7 separate regions of the Homo sapiens genome follow, and all the other regions are reported to be linked to region 2. The links are microRNA targets in miRTarBase. Many come from high-throughput screens and were not tested one by one. Region 2 holds a microRNA gene; each other region holds the end of a gene's coding sequence.
Evidence for each region. Region 2 holds the annotated microRNA hsa-miR-340-5p (UUAUAAAGCAAUGAGACUGAUU, at 1,667-1,688, shown strand). A microRNA usually pairs through its seed, bases 2 to 8, with sites in the 3' UTR of a target mRNA and lowers its output. Matches are read on the target gene's strand: a 7mer-m8 pairs with bases 2 to 8, a 7mer-A1 pairs with bases 2 to 7 and ends in A, and an 8mer does both.

Region 1: the mRNA of TCIM is a reported target of hsa-miR-340-5p. Seed matches in the 3' UTR shown: 7mer-A1 at 967-973 and 7mer-A1 at 1,102-1,108.
Region 3: the mRNA of TASOR2 is a reported target of hsa-miR-340-5p. Seed matches in the 3' UTR shown: 7mer-A1 at 2,265-2,271.
Region 4: miRTarBase lists MORF4L1 as a target of hsa-miR-340-5p. Seed matches in the 3' UTR shown: 7mer-A1 at 2,914-2,920.
Region 5: the mRNA of DEPDC1 is a reported target of hsa-miR-340-5p. Seed matches in the 3' UTR shown: 7mer-A1 at 2,523-2,529 and 7mer-A1 at 2,511-2,517.
Region 6: miRTarBase lists OSBPL1A as a target of hsa-miR-340-5p. Seed matches in the 3' UTR shown: 7mer-A1 at 652-658.
Region 7: the mRNA of MTF2 is a reported target of hsa-miR-340-5p. Seed matches in the 3' UTR shown: 7mer-A1 at 2,051-2,057 and 7mer-A1 at 1,734-1,740.

What each region holds. Positions count from the first base shown.
Region 1 is chr8:40,153,632-40,158,219 of GRCh38, forward strand. It overlaps TCIM (transcriptional and immune response regulator), which reads left to right. Exons shown (of 1, transcript NM_020130.5): 1 at 1-1,679. The coding sequence ends at 222. All of the region lies in intron 3 of LINC02866 (long intergenic non-protein coding RNA 2866), which reads left to right. Among named protein-coding and RNA genes, the nearest start is that of TCIM, 2.4 kb to the left of the region's middle.
Region 2 is chr5:180,014,049-180,017,048 of GRCh38, reverse strand. It overlaps MIR340 (microRNA 340), which reads left to right and starts at 1,652; the gene lies at 1,652-1,746. All of the region lies in intron 2 of RNF130 (ring finger protein 130), which reads left to right.
Region 3 is chr10:5,761,256-5,765,767 of GRCh38, forward strand. It overlaps TASOR2 (transcription activation suppressor family member 2), which reads left to right. Exons shown (of 22, transcript NM_001321783.2): 20 at 35-216; 21 at 1,277-1,391; 22 at 1,774-2,485. The coding sequence ends at 1,777. It overlaps GDI2 (GDP dissociation inhibitor 2), which reads right to left. Exons shown (of 11, transcript NM_001494.4): 11 at 3,968-4,512. Among named protein-coding and RNA genes, the nearest start is that of GDI2, 50 kb to the right of the region's middle.
Region 4 is chr15:78,895,658-78,900,304 of GRCh38, reverse strand. It overlaps MORF4L1 (mortality factor 4 like 1), which reads right to left. Exons shown (of 12, transcript NM_006791.4): 12 at 2,166-3,322. The coding sequence ends at 3,238. It also overlaps the pseudogene RNU6-415P. Among named protein-coding and RNA genes, the nearest start is that of MORF4L1, 25 kb to the right of the region's middle.
Region 5 is chr1:68,473,301-68,477,947 of GRCh38, forward strand. It overlaps DEPDC1 (DEP domain containing 1), which reads right to left. Exons shown (of 12, transcript NM_001114120.3): 11 at 4,487-4,647; 12 at 852-3,769. The coding sequence ends at 3,632. Among named protein-coding and RNA genes, the nearest start is that of DEPDC1-AS2, 3.5 kb to the right of the region's middle.
Region 6 is chr18:24,158,959-24,163,359 of GRCh38, reverse strand. OSBPL1A (oxysterol binding protein like 1A) reads left to right here. Exons shown (of 28, transcript NM_080597.4): 28 at 79-1,308. The coding sequence ends at 181. CABYR (calcium binding tyrosine phosphorylation regulated) reads right to left here. Exons shown (of 6, transcript NM_153769.3): 5 at 3,291-3,888; 6 at 1,760-1,844. The coding sequence ends at 1,844. Among named protein-coding and RNA genes, the nearest start is that of CABYR, 22 kb to the right of the region's middle.
Region 7 is chr1:93,135,582-93,140,228 of GRCh38, reverse strand. MTF2 (metal response element binding transcription factor 2) reads right to left here. Exons shown (of 15, transcript NM_007358.4): 15 at 1,153-3,559. The coding sequence ends at 3,202. Among named protein-coding and RNA genes, the nearest start is that of TMED5, 43 kb to the left of the region's middle.

The DNA of each region.
Region 1 (4,588 bases), not on the chromosome of region 2:
AAAGCCGTGGGCAACATCTTTGAAAACACAGACCAAGAATCACTAGAAAGGCTCTTCAGAAACTCTGGAGACAAGAAAGCAGAGGAGAGAGCCAAGATCATTTTTGCCATAGATCAAGATGTGGAGGAGAAAACGCGTGCCCTGATGGCCTTGAAGAAGAGGACAAAAGACAAGCTTTTCCAGTTTCTGAAACTGCGGAAATATTCCATCAAAGTTCACTGAAGAGAAGAGGATGGATAAGGACGTTATCCAAGAATGGACATTCAAAGACCAAGTGAGTTTGTGAGATTCTAACAGATGCAGCATTTTGCTGCTACCTTACAAGCTTCTCTTCTGTCAGGACTCCAGAGGCTGGAAAGGGACCGGGACTGGAAAGGGACCAGGACTGAACAGACTGGTTACAAAGACTCCAAACAATTTCATGCCCTGTGCTGTTACAGAGGAGAACAAAATGCTTTCAGCAAGGATTTGAAAACTCTTCCGTCCCTGCAGGAAAGGATTGATGCTGATAGAAGAGCCTGGACAGATGTAATGAGAACTAAAGAAAACAGATGGCTGGAGATGACATTTATCCAGGGTCACTTTGTCAGGCCCTAGGACTTAAATCGAAGTTGAACTTTTTTTTTTTTTTTTAACCAAATAGATAGGGGAAGGGAGGAGGGAGAGGGAGGACAGGGAGAGAAAATACCATGCATAAATTGTTTACTGAATTTTTATATCTGAGTGTTCAAAATATTTCCAAGCCTGAGTATTGTCTATTGGTATAGATTTTTAGAAATCAATAATTGATTATTTATTTGCACTTATTACAATGCCTGAAAAAGTGCACCACATGGATGTTAAGTAGAAATTCAAGAAAGTAAGATGTCTTCAGCAACTCAGTAAAACCTTACGCCACCTTTTGGTTTGTAAAAGGTTTTTTATACATTTCAAACAGGTTGCACAAAAGTTAAAATAATGGGGTCTTTTATAAATCCAAAGTACTGTGAAAACATTTTACATATTTTTTAAATCTTCTGACTAATGCTAAAACGTAATCTAATTAAATTTCATACAGTTACTGCAGTAAGCATTAGGAAGTGAATATGATATACAAAATAGTTTATAAAGACTCTATAGTTTCTATAATTTATTTTACTGGCAAATGTCATGCAACAATAATAAATTATTGTAAACTTTGTGGCTTTTGGTCTGTGATGCTTGGTCTCAAAGGAAAAAATAAGATGGTAAATGTTGATATTTACAAACTTTTCTAAAGATGTGTCTCTAACAATAAAAGTTAATTTTAGAGTAGTTTTATATTAATTACCAAACTTTTTCAAAACAAATTCTTACGTCAAATATCTGGGAAGTTTCTCTGTCCCAATCTTAAAATATAAAATATAGATATAGAAGTTCATAGATTGACTCCTTGGCATTTCTATTTATGTATCCATTAAGGATGAGTTTTAAAAGGCTTTCTCTTCATACTTTTGAAAAATTTCTTCTATGATTACAGTAGCTATGTACATGTGTACATCTATTTTTCCCAAGCAATATGTTTTGGGTTTAGAGTCTGAGTGATGACCAAGATTCTGTGTGTTACTACTGTTTGTTTAATAGGAACAAATATAGAAATAATATTATCTCTTTGCTTATTTCCCGTTAAAACTATAATAAAATGTTTCTAGGACAGCATACGTAAATGCCTGCTATGCTTTCCTAACAAAAATGAAATTTTTCCACAAGTTAAGCATTTTAGAAACACCTAAAGTGTTTTTCAAAATGCTGATCACAGTAAGTCAAAACAAGTGAATTACCTCACATCTGCTGGGAGGGTTACAAGTCAGGATTATAAATACTATGTTTTTAAAAAGAAAATCAAATGGCAAATTCTATTTTCAAATAGTAATTTACTCGTTCACTGAAGATAATGCAAAGCACTTTATTAAAAATGAGTTCTTTCCAAGAGAGCATTCCGGAAGATAACACATTAATATGCAAAATTGTGTGTGTGTGTGTGTGTGTGTGTGTGTGTGCATTTTTCTAAGAGGAATATTGATAATTTTCACGAGATTTGTAGAGACAGCTATAACTCCAAAAAAAGTTATAAACAGAAAAAGGGTTTGCGGAGTAGCAGGAGAATTGGAGGAAGCCTAACCCAGGCTGGGGACATACTAGACAATTCCATAGAAATTTTCCCTGTTTCATTTTCACTGTGCTGTGTTACGGGAGTATGAAAGAGAAGGCTGTAAAGAGGCCCTCGGCTCCATAACCCTACTTTCCCATCCTTATGAACTGAGCTTTCTTAATGTTCACTGCGTGTGCTAGAAATAACTTCCTTCTCCTGATAGGGCCCATCAGTGAAAATCTTTATTTTCTATTCAAAAATTGAAGCACACTTGGATGCTAAATGTAGTTCAAGAGTTAAGTGTATTATACATACTCATAACTATTTACTCTGCCACTGTTGTTTTCAATAGGGTACAAAGTATATCTTCTCCTCTTTTCACATTAGCATGTATTAAGTTGTTTTCTTGCAGTATATTACGTTATTTTCTGATTTCAAGGCTGTAACATGGGAGACAAATTAAAAAGCAATTTGGATGCACTCCACAATGGTATGGAGAATAATAACACATCCAGTAGATTATCACAAACGTGTCATCTTTACCATTCATGGAGAACAAAAGTTGGAATCAATTTAATTGCATAAGGATGATTTTTAGCTTCATAATACATTCATTACTTAATGTGAGGTGAAAATAAACATCAGTAGAACAGGGAGGATTGGTTCAGTTTAGAAATTTATGGCACAAGGATAAACAAATATATCTCAGGACATCTCACTGTAATTGAAGAAATGAAAGCAGCAAAGATTAAATAGCTCGTTAATCATATTTGTATCATGAGATCACAGTAATAACTTTCACTGAGTGTTTACTCTCAGTCAGACAATTTTCTAAGTGTTTTTTTTGTGTATTACTAATACATCACTTAATTAGTGCCATGACATAAATGCTAAGGGCATGTGCGTGTGTAATATAGTAATAAAACTGAAGCACAGAGAGGTGCAGTAACTTGGTCAATGACACGCAGCTAATAACTCCAGAAATCAAATCCAGGAACTCTGGCCTTCATTCCCAGCCACTAGACTATACCGGTTCTTTAGGAGAAACCAAGCTTCTCTTTTTCTTTTAAGTAACGATACTTCTATGTTAGTCAGTCATGAAGACAGGAAGGCCTGGCCTCTGAAGCATCACTTTTATCTGACCTGGGTATGTTTGTCTATTTATTTGTTACACGTGCTACATGGGGAAAGCGTCTTAGTTTAATAGTTTTAATTGTATCAAGGATGTGCTTAGATACAGGCTTTCAAGCCTGCAGTTAAAATAACACTTGTATTAGCATCCTGGAACACAAGGCCACACGTAAGCTTTGGGTCTTAGTTTGTTCATTGAAGGAACTCAGAAACCATGGATTCAATATTTTATTCACTCAGTTCATCCCCTGGCCCACAGCAAAGGGGGATTTGTCCAGCAGATAGGATTTTCTGAGAAAGGGGTCCAGGGTGTATGGTTGACTATATTTTTCTCATCATCGGAGGGTAACCAGGGTACGCAATTGACATTCCCTTAGAAAGTTTCATCTGCTAGTAAACTAATAATGAAGCCATGGCCTGAGGATTGCATGTTTTTTCAGAGTATTTAGTTGACCTTTCTATACTCCACATGAGGGTTTCTCAGAACAGCCTGTATGGATTCCCAGCAGAACAGATGTGGGGGGCAGGGCAGCATTTGTATCTTACCCATTCAACAAAAATACAGTAAGCACCCATATGTGGGAGCCTCCATGGCCAGAATGGATCCTGGTTCTCCATATCAGAAGAACAGGAAAGGTTTTTAAAAGGGGTATCACACGGTGAGAAGTGTGATGGGAGTTTAGACAGAATGCTCTGGAAGCATAAGGCAGGAATTATGTGTGTGTGTGTGTGCGCGCACGCGCGTGTGTTTGTGTTTGTGTGTGCGTGTGTGCTTGTGCATGTGTGTGTGTGCTTGTGTGTGTCTGTGTCTGTATGTCTGCGTGTTTGGGGAGTAGCAGGAGAATTGGAGGAGGCCTAATCCAGTTGGAGGAGACCCTAGCAAATTCCACAGAGAATTTTCCCTGTTTTAAAGTAGGAGTTGGGGGAGTAGAGAGAAAAATTTTTATTTCAGCCTATGCCTATAGTATTTGCCAAGACAAGGAGGCAGGAAAGAGTATTTGAAAATCTCCAGGCAGTTCAGTCTGACTAGGGGCCTAAGCATTCCCAGCTAATAATTAGGAAGGCAGCCAGGGCCGGGTGCCGTGGCTCACTCCTGTAAGCCCAACACTTTGGGAGGCCGAGGCAGGCAGATCACTTGCGGTCAAGAGTTCCAGACCAGCCTGGCCAACATGGTGAAACGCTGTCTCTACTAAAAAATACAAAAATTAGCAGGGTGTGGTGGTGCGTGCCCGTAATCCCAGCTACTTGAGAGGCTGAGGCGTGAGAATCACTTGAACCTGGGAGGCGGAGGTTGCAGTGAGCCCAGATCACCCCACTGTACTCCAGCTTGGGCTGCAGAGCGAGACT
Region 2 (3,000 bases):
ATTGAATCCTGGACACAAAACTAAACAAGTTAAACAGCTATTAAAGTCATCACCACAGATACCTGAAAATGGACCATCTATTAAAGAACACAGGGTTAAATTTCTTGAGGATAAGTAAATGAATTGTGGCCACGTAGCTAGCCTTGTTCTTAGGAGGGACCGTGGAAGTATTTAAGAATAAAATGTCATGTGTTTGCAGTTTACTCTTAATTGGTTCAGCAAAAATAAATACATATAGAAAGGACAAAATGTTGACAAATCTAAATAAAAGGTCCATGAGTGTTCTCACAGTATTGGAACTGCTCTATGGGTTTGAAAATTCTCAGGATGAAAGTGGAAAGAATAGAATTGTTTATTAAAGTAGCCAGACTCAAGCAGTGTGGAAACAGAAGTTCCTGTTAAAGAATAACAGTGGGGGAAGTTTCTCAAGAAAATAGTTGGAAGCAGGGATCACAGATGGGCTTTCACTGGATTGCCATCTCTGACAGTTAGTACTGGCGGCCAGACGTGGAAGTGCGTGGGAGCGTGGCCGCATCCGTGACTTACTAGCAGTGTTTGCCCAGGGCCTGGGACATGGGAGTGGTGGGGCATGTCCCAAATGTGCTTTGATATTTACAGCGTTACAGTCTAATTATTCTTCACTCTTTTCAGTCACTGCCTCCTCTGACCGGCCCTTTATTGTGAAGCCTACATTTCCTTTGGCGTGAAACTGGGCCAGAGCTCCTCAGATCCTTAAAAGTCAAGTGTCTGAGGCAGCTTTAGGTCAGGGTCTTTGAGCCCTATCAGGCTTTAGGGGTGGAGTATGGGGAGAAGGCCCTTTCTCCTAGGAGGGGACTCCTATATAACTTTCGCCAGATTCTGTAAAAGATTTAAGACCTAAAACTCCAGTCCTTTGCAAGTTGGTGGCGGGCTTTCGTTCTGCTGTCCTCCTGCCCGATCGGCAGGGTCGGGCTCCTCTGCCCGGCTCTTCTCTGTGCTGGTGTAATGACGCCACCGCGAGCGGCTTCTCTTCCTAGTCCAAAAGGTTCCCCCTTTGCTCCTGAGGGCGTGTGGATTTTTGCATCAAGAGCAGGTAATTTTCTACTCTCTTTAAGAGGTGAAAGGAGCCTGATCATAGTATGTGCTCAATAAATATTGTTGAATGGATGGTTGAAATAATTACACACTTCTTTTCCCAAACAGCTTTCCCGTTGAAATTAGTTGGTGTTCTTATTTAGTGTTCTTTGAATAGAATCACATGGATTGGTTTCCTTGGCTACCTGTTCAGCTTTCCTTTCCCTACTCCTTTCCCTACTCCTTTCCTACTCCTTTTCCTACTCCTTTCCTACTCCTTTCCCTACTCCTTTCCCTACTCCTTTCCTACTCCTTTCCCTACTCCTTTCCTACTCCTTTCCTACTCCTTTCCCTACTCCTTTCCCTACTCCTTTCCCTACTCCTTTCCCTACTCCTTTCCCTACTCCTTTCCCTACTCCTTTCCCTACTCCTTCCCTACTCCTTCCCCTACTCCTTTCCTACTCCTTTCCCTACTCCTTTCCTACTCCTTTCCCTACTCCTTTCCTACTCCTTTCCCTACTCCTTTCCCTACTCCTTTCCCTACTCCTTTTCCAGCTTGAGTCTTCAAGAGGGAGCCTCAACTGATTTCTAAAACCGTTTGTACCTGGTGTGATTATAAAGCAATGAGACTGATTGTCATATGTCGTTTGTGGGATCCGTCTCAGTTACTTTATAGCCATACCTGGTATCTTATACCACAGATCATGGCCCGTTGAACAACATTTTAAGAGATTTCTAAAGGGAAATTTAAAGCGGTTTAGCATTATTTTGTGATTGTCTCTAATTTACTGATCACAACTCTTATTTCAGAAAGGTAATTAGATATTAATTAGATGTTTATTGCTTGCTTTAATTTTATAGTTTTTTGTAGATTTTTAATCGGTATTCTGGTAAACTGCTGTTCTAATAAAGTGGCTGTAACAATTTTGAGTAAGGTAGTAAAAAGGTATATGTTCCATTGGGTTACATTTTCCATAAAACTCCTTTTACTGTTGTATTTCTCTTCTTTTTTTTGAGGGTCTTGCTCTGTCACCCAGGCTGGCGTGCAGTGGCGTGATCTCAGCTCACTGCAGCCTCAACTTCCTGGACTCCAGTGATCCTCCCACCTCAGCCTCCTGAGTATCTGGGACCACAGACATGTGCCACCATGCCTAGCTAATGTTCCTGTTTTTGTGAGAGACAGGGTTTCACCATGTTGCCCAGGCTGGTCTTGGACTCCTGAGCTCAAGCAATCCACCTGCCCTGGCTTCCCAAAGTGCTGGGATTATAGGCATGAGCCACCACGCCCAGCCCTGTTGAATTTCTTTTCAGTTGCGTGTAGTCTTCTGTGACTGCATGTAACACAAAGATGGTTCTTTTAGCTAAATATGGTAAATGAAACATGTAAAACCAAATATTTCAATGTGTTATTCATTGAAGAAGGATTGAAAAGGACAAGTTTTGGGGACTTCTGCTTGATTGTTTTGTTGGTTTACATTGATATGTACAAACCTTATTCAAATTCAAATAAGTGGTTATAATTTTCTCTTTCCCAAAATAAAATATTTATTTCCCTTCTAATGACCCCTAGTCTCTCTCAGGGGCTCTCTGGAGAAGGCAAATGTAGAAGCTACATGTTGCCACCGGCAGCTTCAGCTTATGAAAGGACAATCGCTGATAGATTGATAGAAGTTTCTCTGTTTCCTTAAAAGACAGTGGGAAGTTATTTCCTTTGTGGAGGAGGAAAGGGATAGCAGTTTCCTGCTGTCCATAGGAAGAGGTATTCAATTCCTTCACTGTTACTACTTCTGGAAATTATGTAGGGGAAAGGTCTAGGTAACTATAAGGCAACTTAAGACTGTCCTCGTAATTAACTTGCATAGCCTGTGCTTGTGGGCAGACCTCTGGACAACTGTTAGAGGCTGGAGGTATTTCGATGCCAAACTGGTCCAGAATGTTGAAGCCTGG
Region 3 (4,512 bases), not on the chromosome of region 2:
AAAATATTTTAATATGCCTATGTATCTTTCACAGAGTGGATTCAACTGCACATAAGAAGAACATAATGTTGAAGTCATTTCAGAGTGCAAATATCATTGAATTGCTTCATTATCACCAGTGTGACTCTCGATCATCAACAAAAGCAGAAATTCTGAAATGTTTGCTAAACCTGCAAATTCAGCATATTGATGCCAGGTTTGCTGTCCTCCTAACAGGTAATTCACAGGCGCATTTTACTCAGTTAATGCCAAAATTGGTCAGCTCTAGGAATGTCAAAGTTAGATACCTGATGAAGAGTATCAGGTATCTAAATGGCTTGGCATCCCATGGATACCAGAATCACCCAAATCTGCTGAAGCTGAAGCCCTTATATAAAATGTAGTATTTGCAGGTAACTACACAATCCTCCTATGTATGTAAGTCAGTTCTAGATTACTTATAATACTCAATACAGTATAAGTAGTTATACCGTATTATTTTTTAAATCAATACTGGGGCTGGGTGCAGTGGCTCACACCTGTAATCCCAGCACTTTGGGAGGCCGAGGCGGGCGGATCACTTGAGGTCAGGAGTTAGAGACCAGCCTAGCCAACATGGTGAAACCCCATCTCTACTAAAAATACAAAAATTAGTCAGGTGTGGTGGTTCATGCCAGTAGTCCCAGCTACTTGGGAGGCCGAGGCAGGAGAATGGCTTGAACCCCGGAGGCAGAGGTTGCTTTTAAAAAATTTGTGGGGCAGCCAGGGACAGTGGCTCACGCCTGTAATGCCAGCACTTTGGGAGGCTGAAGCAGGTGGATCACTGAGCCCAGGAATTTGAGGCCAGCCTGGGCAACTTAGCGAGACCTCATCTCTACAGAAGTTGGCAGGTGTGGTGATGTGTGCCTATAGTCCTAGCTACTTGGGTTAAGGCAGAAGGATTGCTCGAGGCTGCAGTGAGCCGTCATCACACCACTGCACTGTAACCTGGGTGGCAGAACAAGACCCTATCTATCTTTAAAAAAAAAAAAAAAAAAGTGTTAAGAAAAATTTACGTAAAGAACCATAGTTATCATTTTTCAGGGATTTTTTTTCAGTACTTTAACCACCACCCCCGATGGAGGCATCTATTTCCAAAGCTTCAAATCTTTTCTTAATTTGGAACCCAACACCTTTTCTCCCCCTACCCCTCACACGAGGAAGTTCCACAGATTTTTTAAAATAAAAAACCAGGTCCTGTTATATAAAAGTACATTAATTATATTAACCAAAAGTTGTTTTTTTTTTTTTTTAACAGACAAGCCTACTATCCCCAGAGAAGTCTTTGAAAATAGTGGAATCCTTGTTACAGATGTAAATAACTTTATAGAAAACATAGAAAAAATAGCAGCTCCATTTAGGAGTAGCTATTGGTAAGAACACTTTTTATGTAACTTTCCCATGTGAGTTGGAGTTGTTGATGGCAAATATTGACATTTGTGTCTAAGGGAAACAGTTGGGAAACTGTTGTTTACATACTTCATGCTATAAATTTAAAGTGTTTGTTTAGGGGTGGAATTGCTATTTGGCATAAATAGGAATTCCTAAATTATCACTAAATGAAGTAACCATCTACTAAAATTACCTATTTTATCTAATGTGCATTTTCACTTGCTGTTAACTTGGATCGTCAGTACAGAACATAATGTAACCTTAGAATGCATAGGCGTTTTCCCCATTAGAGCATCCCGCTTATAAAATATTTCTTGTTCGTATTATTTTAAGAAGTTCTTTATCAATTTTGTGTTTCTTCAGGTGACTCAACTACAGCCTGCCTGGATATGGATGATGCCAATAAAAAATTAGTATTTTCCCTTTGGAAAACTTGTGAACATGTGAATACACATGTGAACAGTCTTACATTTGAAAAACCAATGTTCTACAACTTGGAAAGTTTTCATTTTTTATATTTTGCTGAAATATGTCACAGTGGCATTGCAGTTGTCTGTTAGCTTTGGGTTGCAGTGCTAGATATTGTTTTAAATTATTTTCATTTTAAACAAGATGCCTTCTAAGCTATTGAGCTTATTAAAAATAATTTTACATGTTTACTTAGTTGGAGCAAAAATAAGTCTATTTTAACAAATAGCTTTGTTTTTGCATGCTAATGTCAGAAAGGCATACGATGCACATTATGCTCTGTTTTAAAGGTTTTACCACCCTTGTAAAAACTATAATCTTAAATGGTTTTATTTGCTGTTACACAAACAACACTACATAAAACATTTTTTCCTAAATGGTACAAATTTATAAACTATCATTTTTCACTTACGGTATTTGTAAATACTACACTACAAAAATCAGCTTTCTGAGAAAGAAATAATCATTTATTTATGATATTGAAAATTTCTACAGTAAACACTCAAAACCAAGCAAAAAACATTTGTAAGATACACGGTATCTATTTGGAGCAACGGTTTTTGTAACTAATGTGTTTCATTTTTTAAATAAAGACAACTAAAAATAATCTCTTTCTGCAATGATTTTTATAGCAGAAATTGACTTATCTGGAGTGTTCTAGCAATTTTTAGGTCATTTAGCAGAACAGTAAGCTTCCAGAGGAAACCTACACTTCTATCCTTTGGGCCTGGCCTGTTCTGTTTCTGGGTTCTTTCCGCAGTCAAGTACACCGAGTAACAGGTTAAAGAATGGCAGTTTCACCTGGCCTTTACAGGGACACTTACTTCTTTCAGAAGTCATTAAGTCGGCTTTTATTATTCCTAAACAAAAGAGCTTTATTTTCTCATGAGTAGGTTTTAGAGTTTTAATTGTTGACAATTTTTCAGTTACTAATAGAACCCCAGTCATTTCATTTTATTTTTCCAAGGACAAGAGTCTATTAAGGGAACCATTAACTATTCAGTACAGTGAATTACTTTCAGATTACTAAGGAAAAGGAAAGTGAGCAGTTATAAGATGCCAAACACCTATCTATCTGCCTGAAATATGCACCTTTCAGGTTGGACCTAATAACATTCACCTCCCCTTGCTGAAAAGCCTTCCAACACCCACGAGGCCATCTCAGTTTCCATGCTACCTTTTCTGTAACTCTACTAATAACCAAACCACATCATGTGTTCACCAAACTGAGTTATCCCAGTAACTACCATTATCATCTTTGTCTCCACTGGCCTGGCACACAAGGTATTCAGTAAATACGTTGAATGAAGAATATGAAGATGCGTGGTTTTTCTTTTTTCACTTATTACTAACCCAGCTTGGGCCTTTGCATGGGAAGAGAAAAAGGCTTGCTGGGACTTCAGATAATTTTATCATACAGGTAAAGCAGTGGTTCTCAACATCTGGAGACATTTTTGGTTGTCATTCCAAGATGGTGCTGTTGCCATCTAGTGTGTGGAGGCCAGGGATGCTGCTACAATCAACCCTATCAACAGAGAATGATCCAGCCCAAAACATCAACTGAAGTCGAGAAGCTCCATCATTTTGGCAATATGAATAACAATCTAAATCACCACCCTAGTTCCTTTAACACATCATCTACCTTAGTCTGTCTCCTTCATACTCTGAAGAGTCAGTGTTTATCTGTGGTAAACAACAGCATCTGCCGTGAGGCTCATCACTGTCAGGGGAAAGGGCCTTATATGTAAACACTTTATCATTTCAACTACACAAAAATTATTTACTAAAGCACCTACTCTACCTGACAGTTCACTTACTCCCTTATAACTGCTGCTACAAGCAAAATCATTAAACACTATTTTTTCTGCACAAAGATGATAGGTCTAGTAATGGTACTGTGTCAAGAATAAAACTCGAGGTCTACTCACAGGGAAGCCAGACGACAGGACCTGCTGTGATCCTTCCAGATCAGAAGACACCCACGCTTTCCGCTGCTGAGCATTCTGACTGGCATTGACTCCAGTGCTACCAAAGGAAGCACGGCAGCTGTGACCCTTGCAATCAGGACACACAAACCAACACCGGGCAGTAGTTTCCAGAATTTGGCTTTATTTTGCAGTACAGAAATCATTTGGAGCCATTTTGAGACAGAAGTAGAGGCTCTGTCAAGTCAATACTGCATTGCAGCTTGGTCCACTGAAGAAGCCACGCCTGAGATACAAAAGATGCACTACACTTGACCCGCTTTATGTTCGCTTCCTCTCCCCTTCTCTCTCATCAACTTTATTAGGTTAAAACACCACATACAGGCTTTCTCCAAATGACTCCCTATGTCTGGGGTTTGGTTAGAATTTTATGCCCACATAAACCAAACTTGTGGCTATGCTATTTGGGCCCTGCCATAACATTTGACATAATACAAAATATAAAGTCATAGGGAAAACTTCCGGATGCTGTCCCAAACCGTGGAATATTCAATTTAGAATCTCCTGAACCTCAAGAGGACAGATGACACACAACCTGTATGGATCCAGCTCTTGAGCAGCAGCAGCACATAGCTACACTGATTAAAAGATTAAAAAAACTGTCTCAAGTTGTCTGTGTCGGTATCCCAATGTTTGTTTAACTTCACTA
Region 4 (4,647 bases), not on the chromosome of region 2:
ACAGTGCAAGACTGTCTCAAAAAATAAAAAATAAAGAAAAAACCGTATTAAAACCTAACGGTACTAATATTAATATTCATCTAATTTCATGTTTTGGTAAGTAATTATTAATCAGTATGATTTTGATTACATCATTCCAGCTACTTACTACTAATATGTAAGATATTCTGGAGCGACATTAAAATTACTAGTAAATGAAAACATATTCAAAATACTCTGTAGATTTAATGTCCAAAGATTACTGCCTCTTTTAGTGTCATCAGGTAAACCTATCAATGTTCTTTTCTAATGCTATATTTAAATGGAGGGAGGAGGCTTAATGAATAACGAACAAAATCTTGACTTTCAGGTTTTGTGAAGGAATGTTTAAATTTCTGAATACAGAACCCTAAGACTGTTACAACCCTCAGGACACAAATATCTATAGCGGCAGTTCTCAACGAGTGGTCCAGAGATCTCTGCAGTACCTGAGATATTTTCATGCTGCCTATGAGGTTAAAGCTATTTTAAATCAGTCTTTTTCTCGAGTGTACATGAAATTTTCCTGAGGTTACATGATGTGTGACGGTATCATTCTGATGACTAATGAAGACACGTATTTTTAAGTTTTAAAGTTTTAATTTCTAGCACAGTAAATATTGATAATATAAACGAAAAGATCGAGTCCTCAACTTTTTTTTAGGAGACAGGGTCTCGCTCTGTCACCCAGGCTGGAACACAATGGTACAATCACAGCTCACTGCAGCCTTGATATCTTGGGGTCAGGTGATTCTCCTGCCTCAGCCTCTCAGGTAGCTGGGACCATGGGCACACGCCACCATGCCAGGCTACTCATAAAATTATTTGTAGAAGCCGGGTGCAGTGGCTCATGCCTGTAATCCCAGCACTTTGGGAGGCCGAAGCAGGCAGATCACGAGGTCAGGAGATCGAGACCATTCTAGCTAACGTGGCGAAACCCCATCTCTACTAAAAATACAAACAATTAGCCAGGCATGGTGGCGGGTGCCTGTAGTCCCAGCTACTCGGGAGGCTGAGTCTGGAGAATGGCATGAACCCAGGACGCGGAGCTTGCAGTGAGCCGAGATCACACCACTGCACTCCAGCCTGGATGACAGAGAGAGACTCTGCCTCAAAAAAAAAAAAAAAAATTATTTGTAGAGACAAGGTCTCTTCCCTACGTTACCCACGCTACTTTCAAACTCCTGGGCTCAAGTAATCCTCCCACCTCAGCCCCAAAGTGCTGAGATTACAGATTACAGGTGTGAGCCACCACGCTCGGCAAGAAAATCTTTAAATACCTAACCAGTAACACTAATGTTCAAGGGACCATGAGTACACATTAAAAAAAAAAATCACATCTAGGGCTCATTTTGTTAGCAAAAATATTAAAAATTCAAACAATCAAGATTAGCATGGCCCCTGTGCCAAGAATGACACGTAAATTCTTGAAGTGTTTCATTTTTTAAGTCACATCTAGATAAACAAGAACTTTCAACAGCTGAAAGACCCCAGGCAACAACAATCCCTATTTGTTAGAAATCCAACTAAATCAGTACAGTTGTGACAAAAAGGGTAAAGAAAAAGAGAACAAGTAAGCCGAATGAAGGAGGCGGCAGGAAGACAACTATGGGTAGAAGCAGTTCCCTTCAAACAACCCAAGCAAATCCTGCTTCTTTGGAACTTACTCCTATTTCCCTCCTGCACTCATTATCCCTCTTGTATTGCTGCTGTAACTCTCGCCATCTGAACTTATCTGCTGCTTTGCATTTTAATTGTTTTCTGAGGGTTTTTTTTTTTTTTTTTTTGAGACAGAGTTTCACTCTTGTTGCCCAGGCTGGAGTGCAATGGCACAATCTTGGCTCACTGCAACCTCTGCCTCCTGAGTTCAAGCAATTCTCCTGCCTCAGCCTCGTGAGTCGCTGGGATTACAGGCGTGCGCCACAACGCCCAGCTAATATTTGTATTTTTAGTAGAGATGGGGTTTCTCCATGTTCATCAGGCTGGTGTCGAACTCCTGACCTCAGGTGATCCGCCCGCCTCAGCCTCCCAAAGTGCTGGGATTACAAGCGTGAGCCACTGCACCCAGACGCATTTTAATTCTTAACGTCTGCCATCCTCTACCCAAGTACAGACCACTTTAGTGTCCCTATCAAAGGGGAGAAACGTTGCCCTTTACAACTTTTGGGTTATTTTAATACTGTGTTGTCTATTGACATTTTTGGCTCATGTTTCTAGAGTAAACCCACAAAAGTAAACAATTATAGACAGAAAAAAGCTGACCATAATTTTACACAGGTGAAAATGCCCTTAATTAATGCTCAGAGTAAGTAATAATTTAGGGAAAATAAAAAAAACAGTCATGTAAACTTCTAACTTTTTAGCTAAGACTCAAGACAGCAAACTGCCAAAGCTGCTATGGATTAGCGCTACGTACCAAAGCTAAAGCGTCTCATTCCATAAAGGCCATACCAGAAAACAAAGCACGCACCTGAAAAACCACTGTCTAAATACAAGAAGGAATACACAAATATACAATGGTTTTTGTAAGGCATCAACACAAGCACATTGTTCTTTGAAATTTAAAGAAAAAATTTATTGAAGATCTGAAAAACAATTCCTAAAAGATTGACTTTTCCAGAAAACTAGCTACACAATGCATTGCGTCTATCATGTTAAAACGTGCATTAGACACAAATACAAAAACCATGAAACAAGCCACCATTCTTCAACAATTTGAGCCAAGATAAAATGCCTAAGTAACAACATGGATGACTTGCAAAGGATGGGCTCTTTACTTTAAGCACCATAAAAAAAAACAAAAGCACAAATGGATGAGTGTGTTCAGTTATATACACTGAATTGAACCTTTGGCACTAGGAATCAGAGCATTTTGTCATATAGCATTAACATGTATTATAAAAGTGCGTAGTGTCAAAGGAATAGAACCACCAGCATTCAAAAGCAGCTTTGTCAACTAGGCAATAAAACACTCTACAGCATATCCCTCTGTTGTCCATCATTGAAAACACTGGCAGCAATTTTGAAATGAAAAAAAAAAAGAAAGAAGAAAAAAGGAGCTATTACCCCCTTTTATTTTTTCTCTGTTTAAAATCAAACAGAAAACAAACATCAATTGTTATACACTAACATCTTCAAAGCACATCGTTTGTACAAGAGATAGACTAAGAACAAAAATGTGTTTACGGAGATCCAAACATAAGTGAGTGAGAGTGCCTCTCACACAGCTTTCCGATGGTACTCAGGAGGAGCCACTTCATAATCGCTGGCACTGAACAAAGTTGCAGAATTCTTTGCCAGGTACCTAAAAATAAAATATTCATTACAAAAATTTTTAAAGGTCATTATCTTGATCCAAATCTCTTCCTATATATTATATACATAAGCCACAGAAAACACTTTCCTAAAATACATTAAACCAGACATTCTCTCACAGTAAAACCACACATAATGACAATTCAGGTAAATAAATAAGGTTATACAATGAACAACACTATACATATACAAAGGAATGAACTCTGGAGTTACTCCCCTATTTCTAAACAGCAAAGAACAGTTATGTCTGCAGAATACCAACTTGGGAGCTTGAACCATCTTTAAGAAACAGTTATTATCCTATTACATGACAGCATTACCCTAAAAGAACATCTAGACATTTTCTAAAAAAAAAATCGTTATCAGCCGGGAGTGGTGGCTCATGCCTGTAATCCCAGCACTTTGGGAGGCCAAGGCAAGCTGATCACCTGAGGTTGGGGTTCAAGACCAGCCTGACCAAAGTGGAGAAACCCGTCTCTACTAAAGACACAAAATTAGCTGGACATGGTAGCGCATGCCTGTAATCCCAGATACTCGGGAGGCTGAGGCAGGAGAATTGCTTGAACCTGGAGGCAGAGGTTGTGGTGAGCTGAGATCACGCCACTGTACTCCAGCATGGACAAGCGTGAAACTCCATCTCAAAAAAAAAAAAAAAAAAAAAAAGAAAAGAAAAGAAAAAAGAAAAAAATCCTATCAGGCCAAGCACAGTTGCTTACACCTGTAATCACAGCACTTTGGGGGGCCGAGGCACAAAAATTTGAGGCCAGGAGTTCAAGATCAGCCTGGCCAACATGGCAAAACCCCATCTCTACTAAAAATACAAACATCAGTCAGGCATGGTGGTGTGCACCTGTAATCCCAGCTACTTGGGAGGCTGAGGCCCAAGAATCGTTTGAACCCAAGAGGCGGAGGTTGTAGTGAGCTGTGATCGCATCACTGCACTCCAGCCTGGGCGACAGAGCAAGACTCCATCTCTAAATGAATAAACTTTTTTTTTTTAATTACATAAAAGGGAACGTGAAATGTCAAGTAGTAGAGCACATTCCATAAAGAAACTGAGGTCCAAAGAAGGTATTTATCATTAGTAAAGAAAAGATGATAAATCTTGCCTACATTCTCAAGTCCACGTTGCAGTTTTAAATTTACTGTAAAACGATTGTAATGAGAAAATTCATATACAGAAGTATACAAAGTAGAAACTGAAAACTCCCACCCTCCCTTCCAACACCACGCCCAAGAAATAACCCAGTATTAACTAAGATCCACATTGGAAAGCCAGATCTTATGCAAAGATTAAAATAATGTTTCTCTACA
Region 5 (4,647 bases), not on the chromosome of region 2:
CTACTCTGCAGATCTCTGGAGCTCTTTTTCTTTGCAGCTGCCTGAGTGATTCTGAACTCAGTCATCTTTGGTTTCTTAATTGCAGTGAGACCACTGGGCTTTATTTTGGTTCCTCTGCTGGCAACTGCCTTCAGGCAATAAGTTGGGGAAATCACAAGGCTCATCACCTGTTTTCCCTCTCTTGGGGATCATAGCCCTGCATTACCTGTAGTCCAATGTTTGAAAAGGGTTGTTTCATATATTTTAGCTCATTTCCTAGTTGCTTATGATAGAAGGGACAATTTGGAAGTCCATTAATATACATGAAGCTATGCTTTGGTAGAAAAATTGTGAGTTTTTATAATGAGCAGAAGTCGAACAATACTTTTACTTGTCTAATAAATTCTGTTTCCTCACTACACATTCTGAGAGGTTTTCAGAAGACATAAAAACAACTAACATATATGTTTCTCCCAGTTCTGAGAAAACAAAAAATTCTTAATAGAAGTTAATTCTGAGTAAATACATAAGTCTGAGTTGCTGTACTTACTGTATTTAGAACTGTTAAATTAATTTTGGTGAAACGATTTTCTTTCAATTTAATTCAATATTAAAACTAGCTATCCTTCATTTCTTTCCCAGAAATTCTTCAACAATACCACCCTCCCCCCCACACACACACGCATGCATGCACACACATTCTCTCTCTCTCTCTCTCCACTTTCAAAATAAAAGGGTGGTATATCTCTTGGTCGTACAGATTACCAGGATATAAAATTCCATAACCATCTTTCATTTCACCAAAAACGAGGTAAAGAAAATATTACCACTGATAGGGTAGAAAATATATTGTGAGACACAAGAAAAGAAACTTGATAGCAAAAGAGTTTTAATCAGTAGAGATCTTAAACTCAATACAAGGCAAGAGGAAAGGACATAAAAATCAAGCGTGGGCTTGCTAAATTCAAGATTTAAATATATTGCCTTTCTTTCACTACAATCACAACTCAGTTAGGTAGATACTTTAATTCACATTTTACAGATGAGAAGATTCAGAGTTTAAGCTTCCCAAGGACAGAAAGGTAAGTCAGTGGGAAATTCCATGTACATTCCATTACTAAATGCCACATAACTGTTTGGATAACATAAGAAGAGTGGGTCATTATATGATACCAATTAGAAGATATTAGGGATGGTGGAGGCAGTAATTTCTGGGATAAGAACTATAATTTACAGAATAACCAGACATCATCTGATCTGGTGAAACCTGTGCATTCCCACAATTAGGCTTTTTCACACTTTCTCTCTTTAAATGTGCAACACCTTCCCCATCCCCTCTTTACTTGTAGCAGTTGATTTTGCTTCTTATATCCCGAGAAAGCAACTACCACCAAATCTACCAGTCAACTCATCTATATTTGAACTTAAAGATCTTTATGTTAGAATGGAATCTATCCATGTTCCAGCTTAGGCGAAGCCCTTCTGAAGATATCCATTCCTTCCTTCCTCATCAAATTTTCCTTCTTGACTAGATTAAAAAATTTCAACCAGTAGGCATAATCAGAACCTTTGTCTCATAATGAAAAGATAGTTAATAAGGCTCATCAATTGTCCGTAATTTTGTTTTGGTTCATGTCTGTCCAAAGCAACAGAAAGGACCACATTTTTGCTAAGATCTCTTCTAGTGCTATAATCCTAGGTGATTCTAGTAAAATATTTATAGAGTGCTTATTCTATGTGAGACACTGTGCTAACACTTTACATGCATTATCCTGCTTAATCCTCGCAATCCTAAAAAGAGGTACTATTATAATATTCATTTTATAGATAACAAAACTGGGGCTTAGAGAAGTTAAGTAACTTGTCTGAGTTTACTAGCTAGTTAATAGCACAGTAGGATTCAAACCTGACTGGCAGAGTTTGTTATTAAAGCATTGTACCATGTATTTTGTAATCTCAATTGCATGTACATTAGTGCAAATGAAAGTTGCCTGCCTTTATTATTTATATATTTGTCTATAATACAAAAGCAAAATTATATTGTTACAAAACCCCAAATAATTTTAATCTCAATTTGCAACATAATCCACATTTTACATATCTATAAACAATAAACGTTTTAGTATTCAAATGCCTTAGAAAGAATTCATTTTGGTTCAATAATTTTATAGCCAGGATAAAGTCATATTTATAATTTATAATTTTCTGTCCAGGTTTTTAATAAAAATCAGTAATGTTAAATGGAATACTATCATTTTATAGAGAAACAGTATGAAATTACATTGAGAAATGAGAACAGTCATTAAACATTAAGATTTTATTACAAACCATGCATTATATATTTCTTTACACTTAAGGAATAGATATGAAACAATCTTGGAGTAAAAATTAGAAGGCAACTTGCTTCAAGTTTGTACCAAGTCAATCAAGCAGAAACCTGAAGAACCTTGTTTTAAGATGAGAGTCATTTATACTTGGCAGGCATTTTCTTCCAATGAAAAAATAAAGTCAATGTGCCATTATCTTGACACTTATAAAAATGTTTATAAAAAGCATTTAGGCCATTGATTCTCACAGTTGGCTGAATATTGGAATCACCTAGATTAAAAAAAATACTAATCCCTATACAACATCCCCAAAATTCAGATTTAATTAGTGTAAGTTAGGCCCTGGGCATATAGGCTGTTTTAAAATTCCTCGGGTGAGTCTAATGTGTACCAGTTTGAAAACCACTAGCTTAGAGACCTGTTCCATCATCATAGAAGTCACTCTTTAGCTGAATGATTCTATATGCCCTGATTTCAGTGGGTAGTGTTGTTATTTTAAACATCTGATAGGTGTATCTCCCTTGATTAAAAAATAAATACCTTATGGAAGAGATTATATGTTTTATTTATCATTGTCTCTGCATATCTGGAACAACGAAAGGCACATAGCAGTTGCTAAATAAATATCTTTTGAATGAATATATGATTGCCTTATACTTCTTTTATATCCCCATCTTCTAATAGATTATGAAAACTAGAATTCAAAATATATATACTGAACAAATGAATGACTGAAGCAATTGGGGATAATATTTAAGGCAAAACCAAATCTGATAAAATATACACATATTTTAAAAACACATACATATATATAAATAGATCAAAAGTGGAAAAAGAATATATAAAAGAGTGCAACATTTGGCAGCTGAGAATTATTTCATTGAGTTTTCAAATATTCTTCACATTCTTATACTTAGAAACAAAGAAGTAACCCCAAACAACTAATTCATTAGCTAATATCTCAGAACTTGCACATTTGCAGATAAATTTTCTTTTAAGAACAGAATTATAGTTTAATCCCTAACACAGCTCAGTTTTCAAAATTCAAGTAAATAAAATTTTAGCACACATCATGATAGCCTTACTGGATAGCTGTGTTAAAAACAAAAAGTATTTGGTATCATCTATTGTTATGTGCTCTCAATTGAGATCTAGTTAGTTTCCTAAGAGTCTCACATTGATAACTATTTTGGCACTTCCTTACATAATGTGTTTATTTAGAAATACCTTATTAATGACAGACTTCCTTTTGAGTAGCTACATTCTCAGATATGGCTTCATTTATCAAAGTTCCACAAGTATTACATAATTTTTAATTCAGTTAGTTATCTTAGACTACGGAACTTTGGTTTTCTTAAAATCAGCATTGGTTGCTTGATTGTAGGTTTGTCACCAAAAAGTGCTGCTTCACTCTCCGTGGTTGGAAATCTTTTCTGATATATCAAAGGATATTCCTTCTGAAACTTAAAAATGAGGTGAGAAATTAGAAGGTATTTAACATTATTTCCCAAGCTGAAGCAGTGCTCAACATTTTATAAGAATTCAGTGTTTTTCTCAAAGACGTAGTATAGAGATTAGTATCCTTTCATTTTATCCTTGCCTTTCCCTCTCTCTTCTCATGTGAATACTATAAGATCTCTTAGATCTCATTAACATTAACATTTTAGGATTCTTTCTCTTCCGATGTTAATTCTCCCCCTAAATTCCAGATCTTCTTTCCCACTGATAAAACCTATGAAGGGCATAGGCATCTAGTATTCATATTTCTTTCAGTGTCTCAGACTTAGAATTAGACATGCCAAAATCATGTGGCTACTGGGCTTTCAGAGCTAAAAATTCTAAAACAGTGATAAGTCACTCAAAGATACATATCCATACCTTATAAATTGCTTTCCCAGGCTAATCCAAGCTATAATTATACAAAATACCAGTGAAAAAGGAGAGTATATATTATTACTGTTGGTATTATTTTAAAATTCAGGATAAAGAGCAAAATCAGGTAGGTACTCACATGTTTTAGGTTAACGCACATATACAAGACATCATAATATATAGTCTATATAACTCAAACTTAAAATCTAAAATATTAAAATAAGAAAGTAGATTCTAAATGTTATTAACAACCAGGAACAGCACATTAGAAAATGTTTACATGATTGAGAACTTGCTCATTCTCTTACCTGTTTTAGTTTTTTTCTTTTCTCCTTTAGAGGTAAACTCCTGTTTTTAATAATATTTTCTAAAAGTTCTGCAATTGCAGCTTGAGAGGTAGAAACTTTTTGCTCATCAAACTCCTGAGCACTAATCTGCTTACAGTATGAGTAAGTTGGCAAAGGAGCAA
Region 6 (4,401 bases), not on the chromosome of region 2:
ATACTGCAAACTAGTGAAGAAACAGCCTGTGATTTTCCATAGTTTCCCCTGTAAGTCTTGTCCTTTTTCTTTTAACAGGTGGTTCCATCAAGGTCCTAATCCCTACAATGGAGCACAGGACTGGATTTACTCTGGCAGCTACTGGGACAGAAATTACTTCAATTTGCCTGACATTTATTAAAATGCATACAAGTCAGGGTGTTTGGCTAATCTACAAATAAGTCTTAAACCTATGTTTTTAAATTTTTTTCCCTTGGTTTCTACTTATCTTTTAAAAAAAAAAATGAAAAAACACTCATGAGATAACTGCATTTCACCCAACAAAAGCAGGGTATAAGGCGATATTGGTGATGAAAGTCTTAGGAAAAATGCATAATTTTGCTATAAAATGTACTTATTTGGAATACTATTTTATATAGAGGTAAGAGAACACTGCTGGGGAATATGCTTTTTATGGTTGCTGTTGCCATATTTACTGAAGGTTTATACCTAAATGTAACTTTAGCTTTATGGAACTATATAGTAATCCCAAATCAAGTTATTTTGAATATTTTTATGCTGTCATGCTTGAATGTTTTAGATGTAACCTTTGACATATTTAGAACTCTCCTCCTATACAATGTTTATTCTCAGATATAGAGGTTATGTCATTTTATAAAGACTTCATTGATAAGATGGCTTTTATTCATACTAATCCTCCCAATGTTACCCCTTCCATCTTCCAAGAAGAAAAAAAATGCCTGAATATTCAGAATAGATATTTCTGATTTGAAAATTCTAAAGAATTAAACTGGAAAAGTATTTCATTTACTTAGTGCTCTGAATTTACTTTTACAGTTTTCTGCAGTCAGTATCATTAAAATGGTTAAGTTTACATTTGAACTGAAAATATGTATAAAATCTAGCAATTCACAAAAATGCCCTAGAAATATAGATTTTAATCACCATTACATAATGACAAACCTTGTTAAATGCTTCCACTTCCAGTGGCAAATGCCACTAGGGAAAGTAAGTTGCACTCATGTAAGTATCAAACTATATAAAAGGAGGCCTTGTGCATTTCAAGTTTGCAAAGTACCTGTGTACTTAAAATATGTGTGGAGACCTACTGTACAGTAGTTTTGCCCCTTTAATTGGGGCACATTCATCTTAAATCTTATAGTATTTATCCACCCAAACCCCAGACTGAGATACTGCTCCCAGGGGCCTAGGTAGCTGCCAGTCCGTGATTTTAATTGCTGTCTTGAAGTTAACAAGTGTTATAATGAAATAATCTACCTGATGCTAAATAAAGGCTTTAGAATGTTCCCCAAAAGTGTGGTTTCTTTTAAAATTTCAAATATACTAATGTTGCCACTTAATACTATCCTAAATTGTTAGACGTGTCCTACGAAAGAAGTCCTTGTGGTACCATAGCTCCCAGGGTCAAGGAGATGATAACCAGTTACCTGGCATGCATAGTGGTAAGTAGGCATTTATCTATCCAGAGATTAACTGAATGCTAGATAGATACAGCATAGAGAGGTGCTACCGTATTCATTCGGTGTGAATCTCAAATGCAGAATCAAGTGGAACTACCTGGTTAGAAAATTTGTTACTAGATCTGTTAGAGTGGGAATAGTTTAAAAAAGTATACACATAGGAGTTGGAAAATGCTATTGCTTTATAAGTCTGAAAAGATAGATGATTGATAGGCCTTTTGTGTTTGGTTGGTTGGTTGTAGTCCTCCTAAATTACAAAAAAAAGCAATACAAAATTGTATGCTTGCATGAAGTTTATTGATACATTACACTGGTGGCAGACTCCTCCCTGAAATGTTGACCCAGACAGCGTCATTTCTGGATCTGTTAGGAATAATGCAAACATTGAATTGTTTAAAGTTAAACATGAAACCGAACATGTGAAATGAGCAGAAGATTAGAAATGCAAGGTCTACCCTCCTGCTCTGTTACTAAGCTTAACTAGTTACCTATGGGCTTTTGCACTGAAATATCCCAGCAATTTCATGCTGAAAACAGCCATTTTGGCAATTCCACCAGAAGTCCATAAAGAGGTTGAAGAAGTACATGTAGCCCTAAGATAAGATAATTTTGTCTTTCCTTAAATATAGTAACTGGTCCTTGAGCCTGCTTATGAATGAAATCTAGCTTTTGTCGATCTCTCAGATGCTCAACTTAAAATTCCCACTAATTATTTTAAGTAACTAATTGGTGTATAACACTTCTGTACTTTCAACTCATCTCCCTACTTCCTCTGTTGACCTCCCCCTTACTGCTAATCTGTTTTCCACATAGCAGCCTGAGTGATCTAATAAAAACAGCAATCAGTCATTCTTCTGCTTAAAACACTTGTGCTGGCTTCCCATTGAACTTTTCAATCAAAATCTTTCTTCATTTTATATAATCTCCCCATTTCCCCCCAGCCAGTCTCACTGTGGCCTACTTCGCTGTCTCTGGAACCCCCGTGTTCTTTTCTGCCCTAGGACACAGCCTGGGCGCACCCTGCAAAGCTGGCTTCTTCTCATACTCAGGTGTCAGTTTACATCTGAGCCTGAACACCCTACCTAATAGTGACAATTAAAGGTAGGCCTGTGTCAGCACCCTGTTTTCTCCATAATACTTTACATGTTGTAATACACTTTTTTGTCTGTCTCCCCAACTAAGATGTAGGTCCCATGTTTTTGCTCACGCTACTGTCCACACATAGGGGAGGAGGGCTAGCATAAGGTTTGGCATTAAGTATGAATGAAAAATTAAAAAATGATTTGTGAGTGATCAAACTGTCTCATCCACAGTTAATCTCAGCTGTTGTTTAGCTCTTTACTCTGCCTCTCACCTCTCCATCTACTGCCTCTTACCACGTGGATTAAGTGTTCTGTTACATAATCAAGACTTTCTCTCTTACCTTGCTCTTCAGTTGTTCCCAGCTCCTCCCTACTCCCTAAACATGCCAACTAAATTGTCCTGTTTTAAAAATCCATCCCCTTTTCGCATCTACCACTGTGTTTGTTAGACAATGGACTAGGTATTCAAAGGTGACTGAGTTCATTAGTTTCATGTATCGGGCATCAAATCCTTGGCATGAGTCATTGTGGTACAGTGCACCTGCTGTGCATTTATTAGTAACTGGTGTTTAGGAAGTTGGAGACAGTAACCCCAGGAAGTTAGAGTATACCCCAACTTATTATCTCAAATTGTTTTTAAATATCTAAATCTCCAGGTCAAGAAATCAAAATGCTTAAAACGCGCGTGTGTTAAGGCCTAAATATTATGGTAGGAAAGTGTACCTACCAGTTTTCAGTTTCTGCTTTGCGACGTTTGTGAGCAGTAGTCACGGTTACCTCCCCAGCAATACCGTAACTTCCAAAGGGAGCACATTTGTCACCAGATCCTGAACTTTTTTTAGCTACATCTTCTACTGGGAAAGCAACAGAAAGGAAAACAGGGCTTTTTGGCCTGGGGACATCTTGTCCACTTGGAGGATTAGCATTCTGGGGACTTAGGGTATGTTTCTGGTATTTCTCATCTGCAGGAACAGCAATGGGCACTTGCATTGCAACATATCTCAAGACATCTGACTGTGAAACGACAGCATGTCCAGGAAGAGGTTTCCATCCCTGTGCTTCCTGAACATTTGAGCCTACTAAGATAAAAGGTGGGGCACTGGTCTTCTTGGTGTCGCCCATCACATAAGTTGGAAAAGTGACTTTTGGTGGATGCTGCTGAAACTGTGGATCCTTAGGATTAGGTAAATAGAGGGTTGCTTGGGGAAAAGGCCCAGGTGCAGGTGGCGGTGATGGGTGACCTTGTTGATTCTTATCAGTTAGACAATAAAGGGTCCACATGTTAGAACATGGTGGTGGTTGTCCTCGTTCACTTGTTGCCATTGCTATAAAAAAAAATTTTGCAGGAATTAAAGTTTTGGTCTCTGTATCAGGCACTATGCATAGTAATGTCTTTGTAAGTCTCTTTTACATATAAAACAGCTGTAGTGATATGTACCGTAGAGCATGCTATAGAGAGGGCTGCATAATCGTGTTTGACAGGTGAAAGAGATTCTCTACAGTTGAAAAAGGAGAACAGTGTTGTGGTGGCAAGTGGCAGGGACACTACAGTTGTGGCTGAAGAAGCAATCTTATTCTAAGTTGCAGTTTCCAGCTACTTCAACTTTAGACGTGGCTTCTATAGGCTCCTCGCAGACGAAACTGGTCAACACAACCTTTAGCTTTACCCAAAAGTCAATTGAAGAGTGTGTTAAGCCATTAAAGGAAGCGTTAGTGCATCTGCATAGTGTTTATTTCCTAAAGAAGTTAGCACTAGGTGTCATCTTCACATAATCAAAATCTCTCTGGCCCTTCAGAGGCACCATTATCTCCCATTAATTTGTTACCACACATAAAAC
Region 7 (4,647 bases), not on the chromosome of region 2:
TGCCTAAGTCAGATCATATTCCAACCAAAATTTAATAGTACCTAGTAGAAACTCAATAAAGTGGCCCAAAACAGTTAGTTCTACCCCCAACACAGATAATAGAGATATACTCAACATACACATTATAGAAAACAACCATGCATACTTGGACATATCTTGCAAATAAAAAAAAAAAAAAGCCGGGGGCACCTTCAACTCTAACACATCAGTGAACATTCAATTCTGTTAAATATTTAGTAAAGAATATATGTAGCAAGAGCTGGCTTCATCACCCCTATATTAGAATTTATAGAGTAACTCTGATAGCTTATATTCTGGCTCTAGTTTGGTGGTCTAAGGGTCTAGGAATACACATTTATCACTTAGTAGCAGAATATTTATAAAAATGTATTTGTTTTGAATAAAAATGGAATTACAATGAGTAAGGTATATTGTTTCCACATCTTTTATATGCCTAGGGGCAAAACTTATTTTAAAAGTACAGGAAATCCTTTTTTTTTTTTTTTTTTTGAGACGGAGTCTCACTCTGTTGCCCAGGCTGGAGTGCAGTGGTGCGATCTTGGCTCACTGCTTCACTGCAAGCTCCACCTCCAGGGTTCACGCCATTCTCCGGCCTCAGCCTCCCGAGTGGCTGGGACTACAAGCGCCTGCCACCACACCAGGCTAATTTTTTTGCATTTTTAGTAGAGACGGGGTTTCACTGTGTTAGCCAGGATGGTCTCAATCTCCTGATCTCATGTTCCACCCGCCTCGGCCTCCCTAAGTGCTGGGATTACAGGTGTGAGCCACCGCACCTGGCCCAGGAAATCCTTTTATATGAACCCTAACAATTCTATGTAAGAAGCAAACATAGTTGGAAAATTAAGTCTGAATTTTTTAAAGTTTGGGGACACAATAGAGATATATTGTCTTTCAAATATAAAGTGTACATGCTCACTAAACGTACTTTAAGACCACTTAAGATGAACATGTGATAGTTATTAATATTATAAGAGGGATGAAGAAAATGAAAGCAAAGTTTTATAAAGATTAATTCAAGTGAACATACTAGCAGTGGAATTAGAAAATCCTTACCACCCTAGCTAAATAAAAGCAGTCAACTACTGCACTAGTGTGTATTTTCAAGCAAATACAGAAGCAAAACTCATTAGCTCTTTAAAAAATACACACATTTAATGTTGGTCTGTTTTAATTTCTAAGTAAAGCAATTCCAAAAATACAAACTGAACATCAGAGCCATGTGAACCACCATGAGAAAATAAAACAGACATTCACAATAATTACGTCTAAAGACAGTTCAGCTGGATAAATCATCTTCCAAGTATGTTAAAGAAAAATTTCTAAAAATACTGCTGGTGTTCAGTTAGAATTAAAGGACTTTGGGGAAAATGAAATAATATGATACAGGTGGAGTGAATAAGGATACACGGGATTTACATTTTTCATTACCCCTAGATATAAACAAACATTCAAAAATCAACACAAACTCTGTGTGTTATTCAAAATATTGCAGCTGCAGGAAAGGCAACCTTAAATTAATAGCTAGGGGAAAATCAAGTTTTGGTGGAGGTAAACAGAAGTAACAGTTTTTAATTTGCACTTTTGTAAAGCTCATTTATACCTGGCCAACCAGGAACCAAATGCAGACAATGAAGTTCTCTGCTTCTTTTGGCTATAATGTGACAAGAAAGGATCATCTTTTGAAGATGTTTAAAGAAATAAAGCAACTTTCTTTATAAACAGTCAAATAATCAATTAATGGAATAAATAAGTACTAACCCACATTTTAACCACTCTGTAATCACTACACTTTACATATTTTTTATTTTGGTGGCAAATTCCCCCATAATTAGTCTAAAATCCACCAATCACTTTTAAAAGTAAAATGAATAGCCACCAAAATAAGAAAATCTTCTGTTCACTCTTTGGCTAAAAAGGAAAACAAATAAAACAAAACAAAAAGAAACAGAAGACAACTGTAACACTGGTGATAAAAGAAACTTTTTTTTTACAAGTAAAATAAAGTTATCAATTTAAATCTTGGTACACTTTATAAAAACAAGAGGTAATGTTGTAATAAAACAGCAGTAGCCTCAGCTGGCAACATACTGTTTGTTAACCCTGTGCAATAAAATACTTTGTTCATACTACACTTATTCAAACATGACTAACAGTTACTACAGACATTTCAGGAATCTTCACGGGACTCCTATAGACTTACTGTTAAAAATGAGAGACATTTACAATCATAATGTGCCATGAAAACTTGAAAACGTTACTTCTAGTAGGAGATAATGTTCATATTATTTGAATTTGTTTTAGGTACTGAACAGCTGAGTTACAAGGACTAAAAGTGAAAAGCATTCTAAAAGCCCATGAACACTGTTGTTCACACCCTTCTTCAGAACACACTAAACTTGTCTGACACATTTCTCTTCATACATAGCAAGCAACAGCACCCAATAAAAGCCTGAGAAGAAATGCTGCTGTGTAAATACTGCAACTATTCCTGAAAAAAGAATTATGGGATATATACTCCAAAGCTGCCCATTCCCATAATTTGTATTGCATAGGTCACATAATCACACACATATATATACACGTGTGTATATATATGCACATGCAAGAATATATTAAGACGACAATGAAGTCTAGTCACAGAGCAATTTACAGGCTCAATATATTTTTTTACACTTTGCTTGAAAGAAAATTTCAATATTTTACAGTCTTTCAGTAGGCATTATATACACTGCACTTTATGAAATCTAAAAGGTATTGAAATAAATTTTTCCAACATTTTGGTAACAAAACAAACAACGTTTCTCCAAATACTTGTGCTATCTACATGATGTTTGCTCTGATAATCACTAATCACAAAAAACTGACTCAATGGAATAATTAGAAAAATTGTCTAACACCATGCATGGGTTTCAATCATTTTTAATATCCTATCCTAGAAACATTCTACAAATCTTAAGATTTAAAAAATTAAGTCTCTGTTCTGATTTTTAAAAGATACCTTTTTATGACAATATCCATAACATTGACAGGTACATGTTAAGGCTAGTATCATCCCCTTTTTTGAATTTTTTTGACTTTTTTTTTTTTTTAAGAAAGATAGTAAAAGCCAGACTCCTTTAGGGCTTTGAACTGTACCTACAGAAAATCAGAGTGCAGTGAACATAATGTTCAGTCCTACAGTCAGGATGCAGTTGCTCCTTCCCATTCCACAAGATACTGCACCTTTCCATCAAGTGTCACCCGACGTGCCAAAACTCGGTATTTTTCGCCACATGCTATTCTACCTGCAGCACCAAAATAACTGGTAATGGAGTTCTTTAGATGATTGAGTTGTAACTCCTGATCTGCTAAGTTATTCAGAATCTCTGTGTTGAGTTCATCAAACTGATAATCTTCTTTGCCTTCATCATCTTTTACAATTTCTGAGTTCTGAGTCTGGAGTGCTCTTCTTGGAAGACGACCTCTTCTTCTCCGCAAATGTGGTATTGCAGCAGGCCAAGATCTTCCTGTACGCGTTCTTTTTCTGGAGTCAGATAATCTATGTAACAGAGAAGGCCAGAATTGTCTACTGAGCTTTTTTAGCATCCTATGCCCATACAATATGTTCTCTTTTCTGGATTACTCTACTATACCATATATCCTTGATGATATAAAAATGAGCCAAACCCAAACAATAAATGCTATATAAATGGACTATCACTTGGGCTCATTACTTTAGATTTTGTCACGTTCTTGGAGCTGAACTTTGTGGAGCTTTTCTTCCTTAACTACTAGTAAGTTTAGGGTAATTTTTTTACTTAGGAGGCCAACAAGGAAAATTCTTACGAAGAGGCCCTACTCATAAATCAGGTATTGCCAATAATCACATCATTTAAAAGAGCTCATTCATTTGTTCATTAGAACAAATAATTAATGAGCACAAACTACATCTATGACACTGCTCCATGTCCTTAAAGAGTGGAACTAGAATAGAGGTTCTCTTATTACCAGTTCTAGGCCTAGTGAAGTAATACACCAGAATCAGAATAAGCACAAACTAGCAGTCAGAGTATCCTGGGTCTATCCCTAACTCTATTACTTGGCCAAATTCAAATCTCAATCTCTATGTTCATGAACTTAATGAGTGAAGGGGTTAGACTGGATAATGTGTGAGGTCCTTTTCAGCACAGAAATTCAATTATTTTATGATTTTATAATAAAAGGAGAATATAGTACAACAACTAAATTGAAAGACCTACAGTCATACTGTATAAGTTAACAACCCAGCTCTGTTATACTTGCTAAACATGCAATGTTGGGCTTGTTACTTAAAATCCCCTAAGTCTCACTTTCCTCATCTGTAAAATGAGAACAACAGGACTTACACAACTCAAAAAATTGTTCTCTTTTGTTTGTTTGAGACAAGGTCTCACTCTGTTGCCCAGGCTGGAGTGCAGTGGCACAATCATGGCTCACAGGAGCCCTGACCTCCTGGGCTCAAGTAATCCTCCGCCTCAGCTTCCTGATTATCTAGGACTACAGACACCAATACCACGCCCAGATAATTTTTTTCTTTTGTAGGGATGGGGTCTCATCTCAAACTCTTGCCTCAAGCAATCTTCCCACCTTGGCCTCCCAAAGTGCTGG